7 linked regions of the Homo sapiens genome follow. The protein of the gene in region 3 purifies or fractionates together with the protein of the main gene of each other region. This does not show direct contact. Each region holds a gene or a part of one and is shown on either strand. Other genes may lie near its edges. The genes, in order: GRHL2, DDX46, TCEA1, DSTYK, GTF2E2, EEA1 and CHORDC1.

The links.
Region 1: the proteins of TCEA1 (region 3) and GRHL2 fractionate together in Homo sapiens (co-fractionation; one large-scale study listed by BioGRID). This does not show direct contact.
Region 2: the proteins of TCEA1 (region 3) and DDX46 purify together in Homo sapiens (affinity purification with mass spectrometry, with the first as the bait; one large-scale study listed by BioGRID). This does not show direct contact.
Region 4: the proteins of TCEA1 (region 3) and DSTYK purify together in Homo sapiens (affinity purification with mass spectrometry; one large-scale study listed by BioGRID and IntAct). This does not show direct contact.
Region 5: the proteins of TCEA1 (region 3) and GTF2E2 fractionate together in Homo sapiens (co-fractionation; one large-scale study listed by BioGRID). This does not show direct contact.
Region 6: the proteins of TCEA1 (region 3) and EEA1 fractionate together in Homo sapiens (co-fractionation; one large-scale study listed by BioGRID). This does not show direct contact.
Region 7: the proteins of TCEA1 (region 3) and CHORDC1 fractionate together in Homo sapiens (co-fractionation; one large-scale study listed by BioGRID). This does not show direct contact.

What each region holds. Positions count from the first base shown.
Region 1 is NC_000008.11:101,498,939-101,502,438, forward strand, and holds part of GRHL2 (grainyhead-like protein 2 homolog), read left to right. Parts: intron 1-3,500. UniProt on the Homo sapiens protein: Transcription factor playing an important role in primary neurulation and in epithelial development. Binds directly to the consensus DNA sequence 5'-AACCGGTT-3' acting as an activator and repressor on distinct target genes.
Region 2 is NC_000005.10:134,761,779-134,765,278, forward strand, and holds part of DDX46 (probable ATP-dependent RNA helicase DDX46), read left to right. Parts: intron 1-2,125; coding exon 2,126-2,314; intron 2,315-3,500. UniProt on the Homo sapiens protein: Component of the 17S U2 SnRNP complex of the spliceosome, a large ribonucleoprotein complex that removes introns from transcribed pre-mRNAs.
Region 3 is NC_000008.11:53,977,449-53,980,948, forward strand, and holds part of TCEA1 (transcription elongation factor A protein 1), read right to left. Parts: intron 1,724-3,500; coding exon 1,577-1,723; intron 1,250-1,576; exon of another isoform or gene 1,075-1,249; intron 1-1,074. Other genes in the region: LYPLA1-TCEA1 readthrough, read right to left, coding at 1,577-1,723.
Region 4 is NC_000001.11:205,159,703-205,163,202, reverse strand, and holds part of DSTYK (dual serine/threonine and tyrosine protein kinase), read left to right. Parts: intron 1-196; coding exon 197-280; intron 281-990; coding exon 991-1,167; intron 1,168-1,815; coding exon 1,816-1,945; intron 1,946-2,932; coding exon 2,933-3,089; intron 3,090-3,500. UniProt on the Homo sapiens protein: Acts as a positive regulator of ERK phosphorylation downstream of fibroblast growth factor-receptor activation. Involved in the regulation of both caspase-dependent apoptosis and caspase-independent cell death.
Region 5 is NC_000008.11:30,613,237-30,616,736, reverse strand, and holds part of GTF2E2 (transcription initiation factor IIE subunit beta), read left to right. Parts: intron 1-2,021; coding exon 2,022-2,129; intron 2,130-3,500. UniProt on the Homo sapiens protein: Recruits TFIIH to the initiation complex and stimulates the RNA polymerase II C-terminal domain kinase and DNA-dependent ATPase activities of TFIIH. Both TFIIH and TFIIE are required for promoter clearance by RNA polymerase.
Region 6 is NC_000012.12:92,849,296-92,852,795, reverse strand, and holds part of EEA1 (early endosome antigen 1), read left to right. Parts: intron 1-499; coding exon 500-621; intron 622-1,529; coding exon 1,530-1,685; intron 1,686-3,500. UniProt on the Homo sapiens protein: Binds phospholipid vesicles containing phosphatidylinositol 3-phosphate and participates in endosomal trafficking.
Region 7 is NC_000011.10:90,209,550-90,213,049, reverse strand, and holds part of CHORDC1 (cysteine and histidine-rich domain-containing protein 1), read left to right. Parts: intron 1-1,731; coding exon 1,732-1,835; intron 1,836-2,455; coding exon 2,456-2,514; intron 2,515-3,500. UniProt on the Homo sapiens protein: Regulates centrosome duplication, probably by inhibiting the kinase activity of ROCK2. Proposed to act as co-chaperone for HSP90. May play a role in the regulation of NOD1 via a HSP90 chaperone complex. In vitro, has intrinsic chaperone activity.

The sequences.
Region 1 (3,500 bases), about 48 Mb from region 3:
GTGGCGGGCACCTGTAGTCCCAGCTACTTGGGAGGCTGAGGTGGGAGAATGGCGTGAACCCGGGAGGCAGAGCTTGCAGTGAGCTGAGATTGTGCCACTGCGCTCCAGCCTGGGAGACAGCAAGACTCCGTCTCAAAAAAAAAAAAAAAAGTACTTGGATAAATCAAACATACACAGAAGCATTTAAACAACATTAACAGTACCCAATCACCTGAAGAAGTGTTTGTTTCAAATGTACAGAAGATTCAAATCAGATTTTTTGGATGTTAGGTTGTTAAATTTACTTTTTAAAAAGTTTTAGATAATTCAGGCAACTGCCTCAGTTCCTCTTTATGGCTTATGGTCTAACTATAGACATACGTTTCTGGTTAAAAAATTAACTATGGTTACATAGTATTTTTCCCCTTCCTTACTTCCTCCCTTATTTAAACTAACATTTTCTTCTTGTTCCCTCCTTCCCTTCTTTCCTTCCTTGGTTTGTCTCCCTAATGTCACTTTCCTGGTTTTTTTTTCCTCCCATATTAACTTGGTGAGAACTGCACAGCTTCTGCGCATAGAGATAACGGTGAGTCTGATTTTAGGTGCTGCTATAGTTAGTGAACTTTGCTGCATTCTTTCAGTATTTACAGCATCAGCAGCCCATCCTTGTTACCTGGGCCAAGAGGTAAGATCATTGCAGCAGATGATGTCAACTAGGTTTAACCTTGGAAAAATTTGAAGTCATTTTTAGTATAAGAAAAGCCTTACCCTAAGTTAGAGTTCTCACTCATGATCCCTGGCATTCACTAGGGTACTGATACTCTCTTCCTTTTAAAGAGGTTTTCAATGACTCTTGTTCAATTATAAAAACTAGGCCTGGCCAGGCGCGGTGGCTCATGCCTGTAATCCCAGCACTTTGGGAAGCCGAGGCAGGCAGATCATGAGGTAAGGAGTTCGATATCAGTCTGGCCAATATGGTGAAACCCCGTCTTTAGTAATAACACAAAAATTAGCCAGGCATGGTGGCACGTGCCTGTACTCCCAGCTACTCAGGAGGCTGAGGCAGGAGAATCGCTTGAACACAGGAGGTGGAGGTTGCAGTGAACCAAGATCGCACCACTGCACTCCAGCCTCACTCCAGAGTGAGACTCTGTCTCAGAAAAAAACAACCAACCAACCAAACAAGAAATAAAAACAAACAAACAAAAAACAACAACAAAAAAAACTAGGCCTAACCTGATAAAGGGTAGTGATTGGTTTGGCAAACTTGTCCAGGGAAAATTCCTTAATGAGCAGCAACAGGCTGGATAGGAATTTTTGCTTTGGCCCAGGAGGACTGGTGGGTTGCTTAGTAACAACAACATGTACCTGGGAGTCCCTCAGATAGCTTCACTGGTCTTCAAATTTAGGCCTCCAAATTTCAGATTCACCCTACCATCTACCTGCCTGCATAGTTTCTTCCTTTGGATTAATTCAGGCTCTTCAGATCAGTTTTGTTTATTTTTCCATTACCAGGAGAGCACATTTTATGTTGTAAGTTTCTTATAATGGTAAATGGTAAACTGTATTATAATAGGTAATAACAAAAGTGTATATATATATTTTTTTGAGTTGGAGTTTTGCTCTTGTTGCCCAGGCTGGAGTACAATGGCACGATCTCGGCTCACTGCAACCTCCGCCTCCTAGGTTCAAGCAGTTCTCCTACCTCAGCCTCCTGAGTAGCTGGGACTATAGGTGTGCGCCACTATGCCCGGCTAATTTTTTGGTATTTTTAGTAGAGACGGAGTTTCGCCATTTTGGCCAGTCTTGTCTCGAACTCCTGACCTCAGGTGATCCATTCACCTTGGCCTCCCAAAGTGCTAGGATTACAGGCATGAACCACCACGCCCGACCGAAAGTGTGTTTTATGCTGTAAGTTTCTTACTGGAAATGGTAAAAAAAAAAAAAAGTACTGGATTATAATGGGTTAAGTGGGATAGAAATAAGAAAGCATTCCTTTGGGGATCTCTACCTCCCATCCCCAATTATACTGGGAAGAGAGAAGTGTTTCAGCTTCATGAGTTTTGGTGAGCAGTAGTAATATTATTTGTAAAAAGAGCACCTTTTGATTTGCCACATACAATACTAATCAAATAACACATTTTAAGAATTCTTATAGGAAGTGCTAGAAAAGCTGGTGCATTTCAGGAGATTTCAATGTATATTTTGAAAATAAGTCAGGGTTCTGGAGGTTGTTCATGCATTTGAATGGGCATTCAGTGGAAAGCAATCAATGCCTGTGGTAGATGAAGTACCTTATTTTACTTTGTAATGAACATGGCAATGAACTTTGTGGGGAGCACTTCACTTTCACTCCCAAGGAAATGCTTCCTTTACAAGTGTGAATGCAGATACCCTCCGGAACAGAAACGGAAAGCAAGAATTGCTTGTGGCTTCTCTTTATTTTGGCGCCAGCCTTTCATCTGAACTCTGAATATACAAATATAACTAACCCTGAGAGCCAGAGTCCCTTCTTTTTTAAGGCCCATGAATTTAGATCAGGGTTTTAGGAGACAAGGAAAGGCTGAAGTGAAGGAGAGAGGAGTGGAGAAAGGAGAGGACAGAAGGGAGCAGGAAGAAACTGCTTAACTACTGTTAAGTTGCCAGTGTTTTCTCAGTGGAGTGTGAGCGGCCAGCAGGGGCTGCTGCCGGGGCCTAGGGTGCGACAGCATGTGGCTGTTTGGCCTCCTAGATAATTGGTTTTGGTTTTAATTTGCAATCTAGAATCCTAGAGCTAGAAAGAGCCTTAGGGATCATCCAAATGCATCGTAGGGCATGTGAGTGAGCAAGTATAGGATTTTGATCTAAAAGCCTGGATTGAGAAGAAATGTAAGAAGAAATCTTACATTTTTTCTTCTGTGTTTCATTTTGGGATTCTAAGTATAAATTGAAAATTTGGAGTTTTGATTAGTTTGAAAAAACATGCTTTTTTTTTTTAAGAAAGATTGAGAGCAAGATTAGCACTGCATGTTTACTTCTTAAACCATGAACGTGAGTCTGTGAAATACCTGGTTAAGATTCTGATACCATTACTGGGGAGTTAAAATTGACTTTTCTTCCCACACTCACCCCAAATCATTGTTTTTTGGTTCTCAGTTCAGTGAGTCCCATAAAATAACTGCCTTCTGTACTTCTTGGATCTAACTTTTCAAAGAAACAAGGAACAAAGGTAGCTTTTGCCTCTTTCCTGCATTGCCAATAAGATAATTAACATAAGATCAGAAGATTCTTCTTTCATTATTTTTCATCTGTAAAATGGAATTGAACTAAATGATCTCCGTGAATAATTACCTGCTCCTATATTCTGTGTCTCATTTTCTCCCTCCAGAGGGGTCTGGGCTGGTGGTGGCTCACAGCAGGGGCCATGAACATTAGCAAGACAGGAGGTTACAGGCACAGTGGGACCTGCTTCTGCTCCCAAGCCCCCTCACCTCCTTCACCAAAATCAACGGTGGTCTGATTCAGATGGCAGACTTTTGGAA
Region 2 (3,500 bases), on a different chromosome or scaffold from region 3:
TCAAGATATCCAGATTTTGATATTTCTCAAAATCTTTCCACCTTCCATTTTGATCTATGCCACCACTATCTCATGCCTGGATGATTGCTATAGTGCTGGTCTTTGCTAATCCTGCCTATTCTTTCTCCTTTTGTCCTTGCCTCCCTTTGTTTGGTTTGTTCTCTCAGCAACCAGAATAATACTTTAAAAACATTAGGCCAGGTGCAGTGGCTCACACCTGTAATCCCAGCATTTTGGGATTACATTAAGTGGAAGGATTGCTTGAGCCCAGGAGTTTGAGACCATCCTGAGCAACATAGCAAGACTCCATCTCTACAAAAATGAAAAATAAAAAGAAATAAATAGGTGGGCATAGTGGCACACGCTTTTATGCTTTTGGTCCCAGCTACTTGGGAGGCTGAGGTGGGAAGATGCTTGAGGCCGGGAGGTTAAGACAATCCTGAGCAACATAGTGAGACACCATCTCTACCCAAAAAAAAAAAAAAAAAAAATTGGTGGGCGCGGTGGTGTGTGCCTTTGGTCTCAGCTACTCTGGAGATTGAGGTGGAAGGATTGCTGGGGCCCAGTAGGTTGAGGTTACAGTGAGTAGCAATTGAGCTGCTGCATTCCAGCCTGGGTGACAGAGTGAGACCTTGTCTCAAAAAAGAAATTTAAAAAAATGATAAAAAGGCTGCATGCGGTGGCTCATGCCTGTAATCCATCCCAGCACTTTGGGAGGCTGAGGCAGGTAGATCACCTGAGGTCAGGAGTTCCAGACCAGCCTGACCAATGTGGTGAAACTGCCTCATCTACTAAAGATACGAAACTGGCTGGGCGTGGTAGTATAGGCCTGTAATCCCAGCTGCTTGGGAGGCTGAGGTAGGAGGATTGCTTGAACCTGGGAGGCAGAGGTTGCAGTGAGCTGAGATGGTGCTATTGCATTCCAGCCTGGGCAACAAGAGTGCGACTCTGTCTCAAAAAAAATAAATAAAATAAAATAAAAATAATTAGCTGAGTGGCCGGGCGCAGTGGCCCAAGCCTGTAATCCCAGCACTTTGGGAGGCTGAGGCAGGTGGATCACGAGGTCAGGAGATCGAGACCATCCTGGCTAACATGGTGAAACCCCATCTCTTCTAAAAATGCAAAAAAAATTTAGCCTGGCGTAATGGCGGACGCCTATAGTCCTAGCTACTCGGGAGGCTGAGGCAGGAGAATGGTGTGAACCCGGGAGGTGGAGCTTGCAGTGAGCTGAGATTGTGCCACTGCACTCCAGCCTAGGCAACAGAGCCAGACTCTTTCTCAAAAAAAAAAAATAATAATAATAATTAGCTAAGTGTGGTGACGCATGCCTGAAGTTCCGGCTTCTTGGGAGGCTGAAGTGGGAGGATTGCTTGAGCCTCAGAGAGTTGAAGTTGCAGTGAACTGTGAGCACATCACTGCACTCTATCCTGGATAATAGAGTGAGGCCTGTTTCTAAAAATAAAAATAAAAACATTAATGAGGTTGTGTCACTCCTCTGCTTAAAGTCTTCCAGTAGATTTTCATCTTGGTGTAAAAGACAGAGTCCTTATATAATGGCCAGTAAGGCCTTCCAGGTTTGGCTTCCCTGCTGTTTTTCTGACCTCGTCTTATGGCACGCTGTGTCACTCTTTCAACACTAGCCACAACTGGCATCCTTGCTGTTCCTTAAACTCACCAGTCAAGCTTCCTCTTTAGGGACTTTGCACTTGTGCCTTTTGCGTGGAAAATTCCCTGTATATCTACATGGCTCCTTTATTTCCTCCAAGCCTCTGTAACAAATGTCATATTTATATTGTATATAAACATACTATATACAGTGTTTGTTTCTTCACTTGTCTGCCGTCTTTTCCTTTACCGGAGTGTAAGCTGCCTGGAGCTCAAAGGCAGGAGCTTGGTCTGTTTTGTTCACTGTCCTTGCCTCTCTTTCAAGACAGATTTTCCACCTCTACATGTGTCTGTGCTGAAGCAGAAGGGTTCATTTTTTCCCTCCTAATTTTAGAAAAATTCATAAAAAGTTCTTTGAGTGTTAAATTTGTCTGCTGAAATTATTTTTAGAAAAAATGTAATAAAATGTAATAGAAGCTAATGGTGTTTGCTGAACTTAATCTTTGACTTATTGTTCTAGCCACTATCGAAAACGATCGGCATCCCGGGGTCGCTCTGGAAGTCGGTCTAGAAGTCGCTCACCCTCAGACAAAAGAAGTAAACGTGGAGATGACAGACGGTCTAGAAGTAGAGATAGAGATAGGAGGAGAGAGAGGTCTCGTAGCAGGGATAAAAGAAGATCTCGGTCAAGGGACAGGAAGCGTCTGAGGTAAGACATTAATTAATTTCCAAAAGACGAGTGATAAATTGGGCCTTCTCGGCTATAGCAGGCTTCTTGAAAAGTATGTTTTCAACTGGAGTTTGGTGGCCCAATTGCAGGCCCTTTTCTTTATCCCCTACTTGTTTGATTAGACCCAGAAGGATGTGCCTACAAAGACTCTATCAAACAGTGTTTTTTTTTTTTTTTAATCTTTTTTGAGACAGAGCCTCACTCTGTTGCTCAGACTGGAGTGCAGTGGTATCATCTCTGCTCACTGCAACCTCCACCTCCTGGGTTCAAGCGATTCTCATGCCTAAGCCTGCCAAGTAGCTGGGATTTCAGATGTGCACCACCACACCTGTCTAATTTTTGTGTCTTTAAAAGAGACGGTGTTTTGCCATGTTGGCCAGGCTGCTCTCGATCTCCTGGCCTCATGTGATCCTCCCACCTTGGCCTCCCAAAGTGCTGGGATTACATGTGTGAGCCACCGTGTCCGACCATCAAACAGTGTTTTTAGTTTGGAAACTTTAGGCTGTATTTCCTGTAACCCAAAGACATCCCTTGAAGCCCTCTGAGGGACATACAAAATGAAGTAAAAAGTAAAGTAATAAGTTATATTCAAGAGGGTTCTATTCCAATTCTGCTCCAGGAGAGCTGACCAAGGTGTTAATTTTCTTTCCTTTTTTTTTTGCCACCCTTGTTGAAATTTGTAAAATTTCCTTCCTCTCTCCCTCCTTCCCTCCCTCCCTTCCTCCATCTCTCTCTTCCTTCCTCCCTATCTCCTTCCCTTCCACTCTCTCTCCCTTCCTCCCTCACTCTTTCTCTCTTTCTCTTTCTTTCTTCATTTTGCTAAACAGTGTGTTTAGAGCAGCCTCTAAAGCAGGCAGAAAAAGGAAACAAAGCAGACCCTCTCCAAGCCTCTTAAACTATTTTAATGAGCTGTCATAGATTTAAACTAAAGAGCGCCTTAATCTTTTTTTTTTTTTTAATTTATTTTTTTTTTGAGACAGAGTCTCACTCTGTCACCCAGGCTGGAGTGCAGTGGCACGATCTAGGCTCACTGGAACCTCTGCCTCCCGGGTTCAAGTGATTCTCATGCCTCAGCCTCTTGAGTAACTGGGATTACAGGCATGCTCCACAAAGCCTGGATAATTTTTGTATTTTTAATAGTGACAAAGTTGGCCAGGTATGGTGG
Region 3 (3,500 bases):
ATTTCCTACTCATAAACTTTTGTACTTTTTCAATTTTTAACCACAAAAATAACTACCAACAAAATTTGTTTTAAGTAAAGGCCCCTTTAGAGTTTAGTGATGCTATTTTTTAAGTGCTTAATGTTCTATCGGTGAAAAAATCAATTCCCCAAATCTACTATCTGAAACATAGTAAGTTGTCCCTTAAGGAGACAATCTTGAGTTTACAGCAGATAACATAGCACAAAAACCTATTTGGCAAATGAAATTAAGACAGTGATAAAAAAAATTTTCACATATGCACATGCAACCAAAATAACTATAACACGGTTTTCAGCTGTTAAAGAATAAAAAGGCTAGTCATATCGTACATAAATGTAAGTTATCAATATTACAAAAAGGAACAAATTATCCAGAAGACAGTTAAGCCTAAAGTACTCATAAGCCATGTGGAGGAGCGTGAAGAACTTTCCTTAAATTATATAGTCCTGCAAAATAAAAAGGATTATGGCCAATTTACCTAGTAACCAATACAATTGCTTATGAACTTTTAAAAAAGAACATGGTCATTTTATTAATTCTTATATTTTATAAATTTTGACATAGCTTTCATAGTAACTATTTCTGTGAAAGTATAAATATATCAACTTGGTTTTAGTTAACTAGAATCAGTATTAAGAAAGCATTCTGACAAGGCACAGAGGCTCATGCCTGTATTCCCAGTACTTCGGGAGGCCAAGGTGAGAGGATCATTCGAGTCTGGAAATTTGGGATCAGCCTGGACAATGCAGCAAGACCCCATCTCCGCAAAAAAATAATAATAATTTTTTTTAAAAAAAATCATTCTTACACTTAAGAAAGAAATCTTATCTCCTCTTGAACTAGTCCCCAGTTATCCATGGTTTTGCTTTCCATGGTTTCAGTTATCTATGGTCTGAAAATATTAAATGAAAAATTCCAGAAATAAACAATTCATCAGTTTTAAACTGTACATTGTTCTGAGTAGCATGAAGACAGCCTGTACCATCCTACTCTGTCTCACTTGGAATACAGATCATCCCTTTGTCCAGTGTGTGTCACTGTAATGCTACCTACCCATTAGTCATCCACATCATCAGGGCTCGATGAGGCAGGACCACCTGAAGCAGATGAGCCTCCTTCTGATGGATCATCAGAAGGTCAACAGCAGCCTAACACTTAGTCACAATGCCTACATCATTCACTTCGCCTCATCTCATCAAATGAACAGGGGTGAGTACAGTGCAAGACACTGTGAGAGACAGAAAGACTACACTCATATTACTTTCATAACAGTATCTTGTTATAATTATTCTATTTGATTAAGTTATTATTGTTAATCTCTTCCTATGCCTAATTTATAAATAAAACTTATCAGTACATATGTATCGGAAAAAACGTGGTATACATAGGGTTAGGTACTATCCGTGGTTTCAGGCATCCACTCAGGGTCTTAGAACATATCCCTCCATGGATAAGTGAGGGACTATCATACTGGTAATTATCTTTGCTATTTATTTTAAAACAGGAGTTGCAAGCATTTTTATATAAAAATAAGAATCTATAAACAATCACAAACCTGTGTGTAAGTGCAATTCTTCTTTTTACATTTGCCACATGTGAACAAGTCAGTCTGGGTCCCACCAGTCTTGGCCATCTGATGCTCTCTGATGGCTTCTTTGGTCAAGTTTTTCCGCATCTCTTTCAGCTCATCACTAGCCATTTCCTATGAGGTAGGGGGCAATACCACTCAGTTATAGACACCTTCTATATATATCCTGAATGCTTTTATGCTCAATTAGCCTAATAATAATAAAACCACATATCAACCTTTAAGGTTTTAAAAGCATTAAATTAATATTTTTCCTCAAAGGCTTTGTAAGAGTTTAATTCCTTTTAAAAATTTCTTCAAATACTTAAAAGTTTACATGTGAAAATTGGATTTAAGTACTGTTTAAAGGCTACTAAAACCACCTTTGCAAAGATTATGACAGTGAGAGAAATTGAACATGGCTGACTCCATCTTGCTTCTAGTGTCACAGGCTGGCTGTCTTCCCTCTTTCCTGGGCACAGGCCAAGTTAACCATGGAAGGAATTTAGTTTAACTTTGATGCAAAGATGGTAACAGTCCTTCCCTAAAATCGATCCCTCCTTGTTCAGAGCCTGAGATCACCTTTGTTAAGACTAATGAAATGCCAGAGGATTAGGATTATGGGACAGGCCTGAACTCTGCTAAAATGTAGACATAGTTTCTATAATCCCTCACTGCTCAGGAGTCATGTGGCCAGAGGACACAAAGTGTGTGACTTCCCCAATTGCTCCTATAGGTAACATTATTATTGTAGAACCTGAGATTGGTTTTTTGAGATGTTTTTCAGACTGACCCCTCCAGAACTCAGGCCCCTCACCCAGAGGTACAGAAGGACCAGTTCCCACATCCCTATGATTGCATCCCCAATCAATCAGCAGCACCCATTCCCTAGTCACCTAGGAATAGTTACCACCAAACTATTCTTGTAAAACCCTAACCTCCAAGTCTTCAGGGAGACTAATGTGAGTAATAACTTCGTCTCCTGCATGGCCAGCCTTGCATTAATAAAACTCTTTCTTAACCGCAATAGCGCAGTCTCAGTGAATTGGTTTTGTCTGTGTAGTGGGCGGGAAGAAGCTGTCAGGTGATTACACTATGAACAATGTAAACTTACAACGAGTACCTCTAGTATCCAGATTATAGTTTCTAATAGCATTGCCTACACCCCACTCCCAAAAGAAGTCAGGGATCTCTGGAGGAATGCCTGATTCCAGTTTTGAGGCAAGAAATGTATAGAATATGCCAGGGTCATCTTCTCACGCCAGTTTTTACCAGCTACAGTCATACTTTGCTTTATCTTGCTCTGCGCTATTGTGCTTCATTTTATTGCACTTTGCAGTTACTGCATTTTTTACAAATTGAAGGTCTGCAGCAATGCTGTGTTGAGCAAATCTATTGGCGCTATTTTTCCAAAAGCATGTGCTCATTTCATGTCTCTGTGTCACATCTTGGTAATTCTCACAATATTCCAAGCATTTTCACTATTATTATATCTGTTAGGTAATCTGTGATCAGTAATTTCTTATGTTACTATCACTGTTTTAGGGGCACCACTAACTTTGACCACATAGGACAGTAAGCTTGACAAATGCTGTGTGTGTTCCGACTGCTCCACTCTTTCCCCGTCTCTCTTCCTCTCCTTGGGCCTCCCTACTCCCTGAGACACAACAATATTGAAATCAGGCCAATTAATAACCCTACAATGGCCTCTAAGTATTCAAGGACAAGGAAGAGTCAACATGTCTCACTTTAAATCAAAACCTAGAAATAAGACTAAGTTTAGTGAGGAAGGCATATGGAAAGCTGGGATAAGCCAAAAGCTAGGTCTCTTACACCAGTTAGCCAAATTGTGAATGCAAAGGAAAATTTCTTGATGGAAATTAAAAGTGCTACTCCAGTGAACACATGAATA
Region 4 (3,500 bases), on a different chromosome or scaffold from region 3:
GAATATAAAGATGAGGTAGAAGGGGCTAGATAGTCACAAAATAAATAATCAGCTTAAGTTGACTCTGCATATATATTGAGGGGTAAGTTTGGAAACCCTGAGTCTGGACTGTGTTCTTGAAATAAGTATCATTTATTGCATTTTTAAAATAGCCACACTACTGAGGACATGTTTTCTTTGGCGTTGTCTCTTTCAGATCTTAAATGCTGCCTATCATGTTGAAGTCACGTTTCACTCAGGGTCGTCAGTTACAAGGATGCTATGGGAGCAAATCAAACAGGTAGGGATTATTACTTAGAGAAAGATTTCAAAGCCCCTAGTTGGCTCAAATGAATCATAGTGACCCCAGTAGGAAACAGATATCTAGGATCTTCTGTTAAGGCAGGGTGACCATTTGTTCTGGTTTGCCTGCCTGGGAGAATTCTGGTTTATGCCTATTCTTAAATAATTATTAACATTGTTCCCTTGAACTCTCAGAAGTTTTGGGTTTAAATGATTTTTATGTTGGGTGCTCTTTGTGGACAATGGAAAAATAGAAAAAAAAGATAAATGATATTTCATGGAGCCATAAGACTCTACCACACTAGCTTCTTCATATTTCTTTTTCCCAGCCTAAATCTTTTCTCAGAACTAGGCTTTGTTGTTGCCAGAGGCTGTGAATGTGGTTTCTGTTCTGGAATTTGATCTGGCTCTTATGTAGAGTTATTTACTGACTTCAGAAAGATTATCAGGCACTCCCTGGCACTGAATGTAATATATTGAGGGTTTGTGAGCATGTAGACTAGGCCTGGTGTTCTTTGATGCTTTTCTCTGGGCTAGGACCTGATTTTGTGGTAGATGGAATTGGAAAGGAACTTTGGACTTCGTATGGCTCCCATCTTATGAGCCTGCTCTTAATGAATGGGTAACCCAGAAAAGGAAGGACACTGGATCTTTGTAGTGGTTCTTGTCTCTCATTCCTTGGTGATCTCGCTGTCTTCATCCTGGTAGATCATCCAGCGCATCACATGGGTGAGCCCACCTGCCATCACTCTGGAATGGAAGAGGAAGGTGGCCCAGGAAGCCATTGAGAGCCTCAGCGCCTCCAAATTGGCTAAGAGCATTTGCAGCCAATTCCGGACTCGGCTCAATAGTTCCCACGAGGCTTTTGCAGCCTCCTTGCGGCAGGTTGGTATGTAGGAAAGGAGATACAGCTGGATCAAGCAGAGAAGAGCCTCATCCAGATGGGAATATTTCGCTCTCCGCTCTTCATATATAATATGTGTGTGTGTCTGTGTGTGTATACATATATATACACATATATATACACACACACACATATGTATATTAAAATCATCAGTATATTTTCTTTCTAGATTGTTATAGGAAGTTTTTTCAATAAATTTTTCATGTGGATATTTTCCTAACTCTCGGGAGAATGGAGTGAGCTCAGTTAATTCCTGCCCATTTCAGAGTGAGGAAAGATAATAGGAGTAGGAATTTTGTATGTTTATATAGTATTTTAGGAACAAATGACAGAAGGACATGACTTTCCAACTTCTATATTTCATAATTGTTTGACATCTGATTGTCCACTGGCGGGGAGTGGGTGTGTCCAGGCAGAGAGTGGATAGATGTGAGTATGCATCCAGGAGGAAAAGTTATTATTTATTGAGAGTCTACTCTGTGCCAGTCTCTGTGCTAAACATGTTACATGTATCTTGTTTAATTCTCACAATTATCTATATGAAGTAGATATTATTATCCCTGTATAACAGGTGAGGAAGCTGAAGCTAGGGACTTAAGTCATATGTACTTTTTCTGTTTCTCTCCCAGCTGGAAGCTGGCCACTCAGGCCGGTTAGAGAAAACGGAAGATCTATGGCTGAGGGTTCGGAAAGATCATGCTCCCCGCCTGGCCCGCCTTTCTCTGGAAAGCTGTTCTTTACAGGATGTCTTGCTTCATCGTGAGTCTGGTTTTCTTCTAGATAAACTGGAGGATGGTTCAGGATACCTGACATTCTTATGTCCAGCCTCAGAGAATCCTAGTGTCTAAAGCTGCTTCTTTGCAAAGCTGCCTAAACCCTTACTGATGTTTTTGAATTCCTAAAGTCTCTTCCTGCTATTTATATAGTTCAAATAACATGACCAGGCCAGGTGTGGTGGCTCACACCTGTAATCTTAGTACTTTGGGAGGCTGAGGTGGGTGGACTGCCTGAGCTCAGAAGTTCAAGACCAGCCTAGGCGATATGGCAAGACCCCATCTCTACTAAAAAAATTAGCTGGGCGTGGTGGCACTTTGCAACCCCAGCTCCTCAGGAGGCTCAGGCAGAAGATTCACTTGAACCCAGGAAGTAGAGGTTGCAGTGAGCCAAGATCATACCACTGCACTGCAGCCTGGGTGACAGAGCAAGACTCTGTCTCCAAAAAAAAAAACAACAAAAAACAAAAAACCACATAACCACAGTTTATTTGAATTAAACCAGTTAGATTATTTTCTATTGGGTTAGAATGACACTAGAATTTTATCCCTGGGCTTGATTACAGCTTCCTGACCCTAAAGGCAGGTTCACAATGAAGAATGTTACAGGGCCAGCATGGTGGCTTATGCCTGTAATCCCAGTACTTTGGGAGGCCACGGTGGGTGGATCACTTGAGCCCAGGAGTTCGGGACCACCCTGGGCAATGTGGCAAAACCCCGTCTCTAATAAAACTGTAAAAATTAGCTGTGCGTGGTGGCGTATGCCTGTAATCCCAACTACTTGGGAGCCTGAGGCAGAATAATCGCTTGAACCCAGGAGGCAGAGGTTGCAGTGAGCAGAGATCATGCCACTGCACTCCTGCTTGGGTGACAGAACAAGACTCTGTCTCAAAAAAAAAAAAAAAGAATCTTACAGAGGTTGCCCACGAAGTTCCCATTCCTCCTGCCTTATCTCTGTCTCTGTACCTTATAGGTAAACCTAAACTGGGACAGGAACTGGGCCGGGGCCAGTATGGTGTGGTATACCTGTGTGACAACTGGGGAGGACACTTCCCTTGTGCCCTCAAATCAGTTGTCCCTCCAGATGAGAAGCACTGGAATGATCTGGCTTTGGAATTTCACTATATGAGGTGGGTCCTGGCCTCATTCATCTCTATGAGAAAGATCCAGAGAAGAATCTAGAACCCTGGTTTAGATTTTGTACCAAGAGCTACAGCATGGCCTCTCTATATTTAGTTTTCTGTGTCTAACAGACATGTGCTCCCTTTCAGGCCTTTACTGTCTTTGCTTGCTCTTTCCCCACCATCCTAATTTCTCAGACTCATCATTCCATTTAACTTTCTTCTTTAGTCCTTAAGCCTTATCAGTTTTTAGAATCCAGGATTCTTCATCCTTGTTGAAGAGGCCATGCTCTGTCTGTACTGAGGGCTCTGTCTGCACTGAGGGCCATTACCTCTGGACCTGTCCTAAGCATGGTCTGGAAATTATTGTCTCATACATTGTGGCATGGCATGCAGGATTAGAGCCCAAGCCTTGTAGCC
Region 5 (3,500 bases), about 23 Mb from region 3:
CCACAGCTTCCTCCACTATCAACATCCTGCACCAGAAGAGTACATTTGTGACAGTCAATGAACCTACGTTGACAAATTACCACTCAAAGTCCATAGTTTACATGAGTTCACCCTTAGTGGTGTTCTTTCTGTGGGTTTGGACAAGTGTATAATGACCTATGTCCACCACTCTAGTATCCTCCTGAGTATTTTCACTGCCCTAAAAATTCTCAGGGCTCTGCTTGTTCATCCTCTCCCCTCAACCCTTGGCAGCCACTAAACTTTTTTTAATTTTTAATTTTTAAAATTATTTATTTATTTTTAAAACAGAGTCTTGCTCTGTTGCCAGGCTGGAATGCAATGGCTTGATCTTGGCTCACTGCAACCTCCGCCTCCCAGGTTCAAGTGATTCCCCTGCCTCAGCCTCCCGAGTAGCTGAGACTACAGGCACCCGCTACCACGCCTGGCTAATTTTTTGTATTTTAGTAGAGATGGGATTTCACCATGTTGGCCAGGATGGTCTCGATCTCCTTACCTTGTGGCCTGCTTCGTTTTCCCAAAGTGCTGGGATTACAGGTGTGAACCACTGCATCTGGCCTGCAGCCACTAAACTTTTTATTGTCTCCATGGTTTTTGCCTTTTCCGGAATGTCAACAGTTGGAGCCATACAGTATGTATCCTTTTCAGATTGGCTTCTTTCCCTTAGTAATATGTATTTAAGGTTTCTCCATGTTTTTTTCATAGCTTGATAGCTCATTTCGTTTTAGCACTGGATAGTATTCCATCGTCTGGATATACCACGGTTTATTTACCCACTCACCTACTGAAGGACATCTTGGTTGCTTCCAGCTTTTGGCAATTATGGATAAAGCTGTAATAAGCATCCTTAGTGGATTTTTGTATGTACATAATTTTTTGGCTCATTTGGGTAAATACCAAGGATCGTGATTGCTAGATTGATCAAATGGTAAGAGTGTGTTTAGTGTTGTAAGAAACTGCTGAACTGTCTTCCACAGTAGCTGTACCATTTAGCATACTCACCAGTAATGAATGACAGCTCCTGTTCCTTTGCATCCTCTCTAGCTTTTGGTATCTACGTGTGTGTGTGTGTTTTCTTTGGATAGGCATGATACATATGTTTTTTAACTTATTAATTTGTCTTGGACATCTTTTCAAATTAGCACATAGAGAACTTTTACATTTACTTTGTGAACATCTGTGTAGTGGAATGGATGTGCTGTAGTTAATCTGTCTTCTAATATGGACGCTTGGGTTATTTCTAATATTTTCCTTTTATGAACAATGCTACAGTGACCATAAGTCACTTTTCTGTGTGGTACTGGTATTTCTGTAGGATAAGTTTCTAGAAATAGGATTGTTTGGTGAAAGTTGAGTGTCTTTTCCTATGTTTAAGGTCATTTTTTGCAATCTGCGCGTTTCTGTCTTTGGGTCATTTTCTGTTAGTTTTGTGTTTTTTCAAGACAGAGTCTTGCTCTTGCCTCCCAGGCTGGAGTGCAGTGGCATGATCTCAGCTCACTGCAGCCTCCTCTTCCCAGGTTCAAGCGATTCTCCTGCCTCAGCCTCCCAAGTAGCTGGGATTACAAGCATGCACCACCATGCACGGCTGATTTTTATATTTTTAGTAGACATGGGGTTTCACCATGTTGGCCAGGCTGGTCTCGAACACCTGACCTGAAGTGATCCCACCTGCCTTAGTCCCCCAGAGTGCTGGGATTACAGCCATGAGCCACTGTGCCTGGTCTATTTTGTTAGTTTTTTGAAGCTCTTGAAATGTTAGGAAGAATATAGCTCTTGGTGATACGAGTTGCATATATTTTTTTGTCAGTTTGTCTTTTGATTTTATAGAGCAATGAGTTTCAACCCCATTCTGATTTCATGGTCTATGGCTCTTCGTCACTATAATTATGCTACCTGGAATAATACATGTTTTTCATTCCTGAAGGTTTGTTTACATGTAACTATGATTTAATGCATCTAGCATTTTGAAACTGTCTTCTAATAACAATTTCTTCACTTGATAGACACGGCATCAGCGAGGAGATACGCATCCTCTAACCTTAGATGAAATTTTGGATGAAACACAACATTTAGATATTGGACTCAAGCAGAAACAATGGCTAATGACTGAGGTAAGAATTTAGTTGATTATCAAGAGAGATTTCCTGTAACTAGAATTTTCTTTTTTTTTTAAGACAGAGTCTTGCTCTGTTGCACAGGCTAGAGTGCAGTGGCATGATCTCAGCCCACTGCTGACTCAGCCTCCCGAGTAGTTGGGACTACAGGCATGTGCCACGATACCAGGCTAATTTTTGTGTTTTTAGTAGAGACGGGGTTTCACCATGTTGGCCAGGCTGGTGTTGAACTCCTGACCTCAAGTGATCCGCCCACCTCGGCCTCCCAGAGTGCTGGGGTTATAGGCATGAGCCACTGCGCCTTGCCTAGAATGTTTTAATATGGTGAAATCTGATAATGCTTTTTACTTTTTCTTAAAAGAAATGGTGTAGGGTCTTTGTTTTTTGAATGTACACATTTATAAGATTGATTTGTTGGTTTTCATATAATTTTATGTTATCTGTTTCAAAATGTTAAAGGTAAGACTTTGTGTAATAGTTGTAAAGAAGTCATTGTACCAATTCGACTTAATGTTTTTACAGATTAATGCTTATTTTGTATTGCCAGATTTATAGTTTGTGTGCTTGTAAATTGAATTGTTTTTGTTTTAGGAAATTTAAAGCATAAGGTACTGCAGGGATAGGAAGATATTTTGTTGCACAATTACTGCTATTATGGCTTGATGTGGAAAAAAAGTCGCGAATGCTGTGTATGAACACACATCATTTGAAGAAACCCCAACGCAGTCAGTGACCATGCTAATTTGGAAATGAATAGCATTTAAAAATTCAAATGTTTACCGCTTTAAAATATGAAGTGAAAACTAAGAAGACTACTTTCTAGGACCAGAGATAGATTCTAGAAACCAAATGTAAAATTCCTAACATACAATTCATTTATTTTTTTACCAAGCAAAATACAGGTCTTGACTTTTATAATGTAACATGACCATTAATCAGTATAATTGTAGTTCATTGTATTAGTGATACACAAACAATGGTAATCCACATTTAAATTTGCTGGTTTAGCTAACCTTGAGAATTCATAGACTACCAACATTTAGTTAACAATGACTTTGATCATTTTACTATTCTATTCTCCCTTTTTTCTTCTTTCTGTGTTTCTTCTCTTTCTCCTTTCAGGGTCAGGCTGGCAGCTGCAGAAGAAAATATATAGGGTTGCTCTTTTTGAAGAGCTTTCCTTCTGATACTAACTGTACAACAGAACTGACTAGAAACATAATTATATTCAGTAATTCCTGCATTCCTACTCAGTTTCATTCTCAAGCTGACATTATAGGTAAAGTTCTTGTATGCACTAGTCTGGTCCTTTTCAGTTCCTTCCACAGCTGCCATTGCCAGTTGATAGCAGATGGGGAAGACCATTGA
Region 6 (3,500 bases), on a different chromosome or scaffold from region 3:
AATGGTGATTAATGGAATTTAATGATTTCAGAGTTGCTATGTAAATTATTTTGTTTGTCCTCTAGCTGCCTGCCTTCAAAGGACTGGTGTTTCTTTGTAGATTCTTCTTGAAATTTAGAGAAGATACATTTTCTTCTGTGGCATGCTTAAAGATTAAAAAGGAACATTTTAAAGAAGTGAAGTAAATAATGTAGTATAAATGTAACACTTGGTTATACTATTACATATATATGTTTTTAACATGTGCTTTTAGGTAAAATATGTGATTAAGTACATTAAAATGCTAATTATTAACTTAATGTTGAGTGGAATTTATGTAGACAGTTAATTTTAAGTTCATTTCATGTAATTAGAAGTATAAATTTACTGTATATATTTATGGTTATCTAAGGAATGTGAATTTGAATTAGAGTGATATACAGATATGCAGAGTAATATATGGAAACTTATAAAACTGTCCTCCCCTTAAACTAATATTTATATAACTATCTTTAATTAGATATAAAGTCAAAGTATGATGAAGAAAGGAGTCTTCGAGAAGCTGCTGAACAAAAAGTGACACGTCTGACAGAAGAATTAAACAAAGAGGCAACTGTAATTCAAGATCTGAAGACGGAACTGGTAATTTAGGAATTATTTATTGAGATGTACTCTTATACCTTTCTAAATTAAAAATAAAATACATACCCTGAAGGAAAATGTTTAAAAATATAATTTGAGTGAAATCAGGAAATAAGCAATTCCCTATATTCTACCACCTGCATATATATTCTGTATATGATTTTTAAAATAAAAATGGAATGTTATGATACGTAACTTACTACCTTAACATTTTTGTTGTTTCTATCTAAATATCATCTGTCATTTTAGTAGTTTTCATATCTGCATCTCTGATCCTGGTCTTCTCTTGCATGTTTGTTTTATAAATCCATCTGCTTTTAGGGTACTTTGTGTTGAATTTCTAGCTTTAATTTCAAATTCAACAAGTATAAAATCAAAGTAATCATGTTTCCTCATTACTGTATTTCTGTTATTGGAACCATACATCTCTAATACTCTCCCAAGACTTAATAATCTTGGATCTGTCCTTGACTTTCTTTCCTTTATTTAGCTCTCAATAAATATATAAATTAACTACATCCAACCTGGAGCAAACTCTATGCTTTCATTTGCTCCTTCATTTTTATTACCAGTTTTGTAGGATAGAAAAAGAAGGAATGTAGCATTTTCAAGTCACTGTTATGACCAATAGATGTAGTTTGTGAAGGGAAGGAAAACAAATAAAGTAGTAAAGATAATTGTGAATTTACTATACAGCACCTTGAGTATTAATACTATTAAATATGAGGTAGGATGGGAAGAGGAAGTGGCTTATTGTGGGAGAAGATATCAGTGTTCAATGTTTGAAGTCTAAAAATTGATATTGATGATTGTTTCCCTTTTGATTCCTTTGTAGTGAAATGATTCTAAAAATGTGTATTATTTTAGTTTTTCACTTTAATTTTTAATTAAAATGTGTTGTTTCACAGCTTCAGAGACCTGGTATAGAAGATGTTGCCGTGCTAAAGAAAGAACTGGTCCAAGTTCAAACACTAATGGATAACATGACCTTGGAACGTGAGCGAGAATCTGAAAAACTCAAAGATGAATGCAAAAAATTGCAGTCACAATATGCTAGCTCAGAGGTAATGAAGTTCATTGTACTTAAATGTGATTCATATTAGCTTGTGTAGTGTATACTATTGAGTGAAGCCAGGATTTGAGATTTTTCTGAGTGGCCTATCAAAATATTTGTCTTTCTTTCATTTTTGATCTGAATAATATTTGTTTATAGTCAATGTGGTCTCTCAGTATGTTTTGCTTTATAAAGCTAGACACTCAGGAATATTTGCATAAAGATTATTATTCTGTTTAATATATATATTGTTGACATGATATTTAAGGTTAAATTTACTCAAGGTTGGTTGATAAATGGTAATTGACTTTAAAGGAAGAATGATAGCATTTTCTACAATTATATTACCAATTTTGTTTAGAAAATATATTTAAGAAAGGCTTATTTTGTAATAAGCTTATTTCTTTTTTTTTTTTTTTTTTTTTTTTTTTGAGACAAAGTCTTGCTCTGTCACCCAGGCTGGAGTGCAGTGGCGTGATCTCAGCTCACTGCAACATCCACCTCCCGGGTTCAAGTGATTCTTCTGCCTCAGCCTCCCAAGTAGCTGGGATTACAGGTGCCTGCCACCACGCTTGGCTAATTTTTGTATTTTTAGTAGAGATGGGGCTTCACCATGTTGGCCAGGCTGGTCTCGAACTCCTGACCTCAGACGGTCTGCCTGTCTTGGCTTCCCAAAGTGTTGGGATTACAGGCGTGAGCCACTGCACCCGGCCATAAGCTTATTTCTAATTGATGGACTTTGAATTATGAATTTGAAAGAAGTCTTGAACTAGTCTAAATTCAGTCCAGAACTTCCCTTTATGCCAACCCTGCTAAGTGATCCACAATCCTTGCTAGGTGGTGTACGGTGTGCATATTTCTTCCTAAGTCTATTTTATTGAGCTGACATTTGTTTCCCTGTAATTTACATGCGCTGGTTCTGGTTCTGTCCTTAGGAATTACACAGAATAAATTGTTCCTCTTTCCACATGAGGTATTTGAAGACTGCTCATATTTATTCGGAGTATTTCTCTTCCAAGATAAACATTTTCAGTTCTTCTACTATTTCTTACATGACATGACTTTGGCCTGTAAATCCCTTGTATAATATGTCAGCATTTAATAAACTCTAAGATGTATAATACATAAATGTGCTTAAAAATCCTAGCCTTTGTCCTTTTTACTTTATTATAGGAGACATTTTGTTATGACTACTGTTATTTGTAGTCTTTAAGCTCCCTTATGTAAAGTAGACCTCTGATTTTCATATTTTCAGTTTAAAAAGTTGTTACCGTAACATTTTAATTTGAATCTCTTCCTTAGAGTTTTGTAACTGGTGATCTAAAAGCCACTCTATTCACAAATATAACATGTCATCAAGCTTTGGGGTATAAGTATTATAGATAACCCATGTCTAATTCATTTTTAAAAATCTTTCTTTATCTTATGGGAAGAGATGGTGAAAGTTTGTGGATATAACACACATAGGCATGTAAGGCCTTATGATGCCTAACACTACACTCTCTAACTTATGATATTTGGATGCAGTTTTTCCAAAATTGACACTTTGTAGCCCAATAACACTTAATTCCAAAAATTTTCAAACAATTTCAGGTGGTTCATGAACTTACTGAAGCCAGTTAAAAGCTCTTGTCCTACTGGTATTATTAATCAGCAGAAGACAATGATAAATCTATAAGTACAAATGTGAAATCAAGGAGAGGCTGAATCAAAGAAGTCTCATGAGGAAAAGTGCTATTCAGATGTTAATGTCAAAATACCTAAACCAGGGTGAACCCAGTCATTTATTTCTTTGTATCAGTAAGAACTATTTTTGTTTAGATAT
Region 7 (3,500 bases), on a different chromosome or scaffold from region 3:
AAAGACAAAACTTCAGTCATGGCTCATTCTTAATCTCTTTAGTAATATAATACAGTCTGTACTATAATAGTATGAGTTAATTTTTTCTTTAAATGATGGGCTGTTATTTTACTTAAAGGGCAGTGAGAGGCCAGGCACTGTGGCTCAAGCCCATAATCCAGCACTTTGAGAAGCCTAGGAGGGAGGATCCTTTGAGCCTAGGAGTTTGAGAACCAATCTGAAAGAGATCCTGTCTCTCCAAAAAAAATAAATTAGCTGGGTTTGGTGGTGTGCTCATGTAGTTGCAGCTACTCAGGCTGAGGCAGGAGGATCTTGAGATTGACTTTTTGAAAAAAAAGGACAAAGGCAGTGAGATGAGAAAAACTAAATATTTTATCCTAAATTCATTTGGTGGTATTATAACAATTATGAGGATATCAGTTTTTACATACTTTTCTTTTTTTTAAGAAGAAAAGTCCCTCTCTTACCCAGGCTGTAATGCAGTGGCATTATAGCTCACTGCAGCCTTTAACTCCTGGGCTCAAGCCATCCTCCTCCCTAACCCTCCCCGGAACTATAGGTGTATGCTACTATGACTGTATTAGTCCATTTTCACAGTTACGAAGAAACACCCGAGACTAAGTGATTTATAAAGAAAAAGAGGTTTAATGAACTCACAGTTCCATATGGCTGGGGAGGCCTCACAATCATGGCAGAAGGTAGAGCGAGTAATAAAGGAATGTTTTACATGGTGGCAGGCAAGAAAAAAACCATCAGAACTTCTGAGACTTATTCACTATCATGAGAACAGCATGGGAAAAAGGCATCCCCATGATCCAGTTACCTCCCACTAGGTCTGTCACACACCATGTGGAGATTAGGGGAGCTAGAATTCAAGATGAGATTTGGTTGGTGACACAGGGAAACCATATCAGTGACCGACTAATATTTTTTATTATTTTGCGGAGACAGGGTTCCACTTTGTTGCCCAGGCTTCAAGCAGTCCTCTTGCCTCAGCCTCCCAAAGTGTTGGGATTATGGGCATAAGCGACCATGCCTTGCCTATGTACTTTTAAAATGCCTCTTTTGTCAGTTTTTTCATCGAGGATATAGAATGAATAGCCTACGATTTTTATTTTTATTGCTGTGTTTATTAATATGTTTAATACTTATTTATTGAGTGGACTTAAATTATGTATACAACACTTAGCCATTATGAAATGTTAGAAGATGTTGTTTTTTAAACCCTACTGAAATTGCCTTGCAATACGATCGTATCTGAATTTACAGATCCATATGCCAGTGTCCACATAAATTATCTCCACTGGTAGAAGTGAGTATGGATTCACTTAGAACTTACTTATATTTCATGTTTATTATGTGCTCAGCATTGAGCTTGGGCATGGGATGTAAAAGTACATTATGGTCCCTTCCTCAGCATTACTCATCTTGAAAACCTTGGATTCCTAGTCTTTATTCCTTTCTCGTTAGTGCAACTGATTAATACTTAAATATGCTGACAATAGCGTGATTATTTGAGACTTACTATTCTAATATAAGGAGCTTTTCTGTTAAGACAGAATGTAGATACATTGTAACAATTATTTATAAAATACCTTTTAACCTTTTAATGGGAATCATTTGATACACAAAGCATTTGGCTTCTCAGAAAGCTTTTAAGGTTATTAATTTGGAGTACAAAGAAATATTTTGGTATATTAATAATGGTAATAAGGTTTCAAAATTCTCCAGCCCAGATGAACCAATGACAAATTTGGAATTAAAAATATCTGCCTCCCTAAAACAAGCACTTGATAAACTTAAACTGTCATCAGGGAATGAAGAAAATAAGAAAGGTAAGATTTTATTTTGTTTTATTGTTAATTATTTTCTGGTACAGTTAAGCAGTTATCCAAAAGAGAGAATAGTAGTTTACTGCATATAAATAGGGAAAAGTCGCACATTGTAGTTAAGAAACTTTTTCTTCTAAATGTCAGATATGATAAACTACAAATACTTCAGAACCTAATAGGTTAATTCCATATGTCTTTATTCAAAACGAGAACCTATATTAAATTTTTTTTCTTTTATGGTTCATTATTTTTTTAAGAATCAGCTAAATTTCTTTGATATTTTAAAATGTTTTCTTGTACATTATACAAAATATATTCACTATTCTCTGACTTTATACCTGGTACCATGGGAGGAAAACACCCTTTCATGATTTATTTTACAAAGTTAAGATACTGGATATAACATTTTGTTATGGAAAAAATTGTGTCCTGCATTGTTGAAGACACCAGGTCCTCAAAAGAAGAAGAAATGTGTCATATATCAATTTGGGGATATAAGCAAATCCTAGTCACAGTCGTTTTCTAAAAAGTATTGTTTTCTGGAAAAACCTAGTTTTTAAGAATGATGCCACAGCGAAGTTCTATTTTAACTTTTTAATTTGATTTTTTTTTCTTTGTTACAGAAGAAGACAATGATGAAATTAAGATTGGGACCTCATGTAAGAATGGAGGGTGTTCAAAGGTATATATCACAAGATTTGTGATGTGTTATGAAGTAAAATTTTAATTTTGAGGAAAGTGCAGTTTGCTGACTCAATTCAACAAACATTTGCATGCATATTATATATTGAACATTATGCTGGGGACTAGGGCTACAATCATGGATAAGAGACTCTGAGTAGCATCATGTCCAGTAGAATAATGAAAATAAGTAATTCCAATTCACTTAACATTTACTGAGCACTTATTATGTGCCAGACATTTTATGGGCTGGAGACATAGTATCAAATAAAGCAAACATTTCTTTTCTTATGGAGCTGATATTCTAGAATGGGGAGAAGAGCAACAAATAGGTAGTTAGATATTACAAAATCAGGATGATAGGAAGAAAATAAAACATACTAAGGAGTGCTTATCAGCAAAGCCCTTCTTGACATAGTAACACTAAATCAGAAATCTTCATGTTGCACTGGATGGATTATGTAAACCTGGGTGAAGAGTGTTCTGGATGCAGTAACATGAGCAGAGGCTTTAGAACTTGGCTATTCAAGGAATAACAAGGTCTGTGGAGCTTGGGCAAGGGTAGCAGGTAAGACAGGTAGACAGAATTATGGTGGTTCTTTTAAGCCATGATGAGGTATTTGGGCTTTATTCTAAGTATTAGGAGAAGCTATTACTTGCTTTAGGGAAGGGTTTTAGAAAGATTCTGTGACTGGTGAATGGTAAATACATGGTGATGCAGCAGGAGTGGAATTGGAAGAAGAGAAACCAGCTAGGATGCTATTGTGGAAGACCAGACAGTGGGATTGGAGAGTAGTTTGTTGAGAAGTGATTAAATGTGGGATGCGGTCAAACATACCAGTAAGCCATTTTCCTGCCTCTTGCTACTTGATATAAAACTTGCATATCCTCCAACATTTCTTCTCCCTCTCCTTTTTTCTCCATCGCTCTTAATCACTTTATATTACTTATTTTGTATACTTATTTTACTTCTGAGCTATACCATCT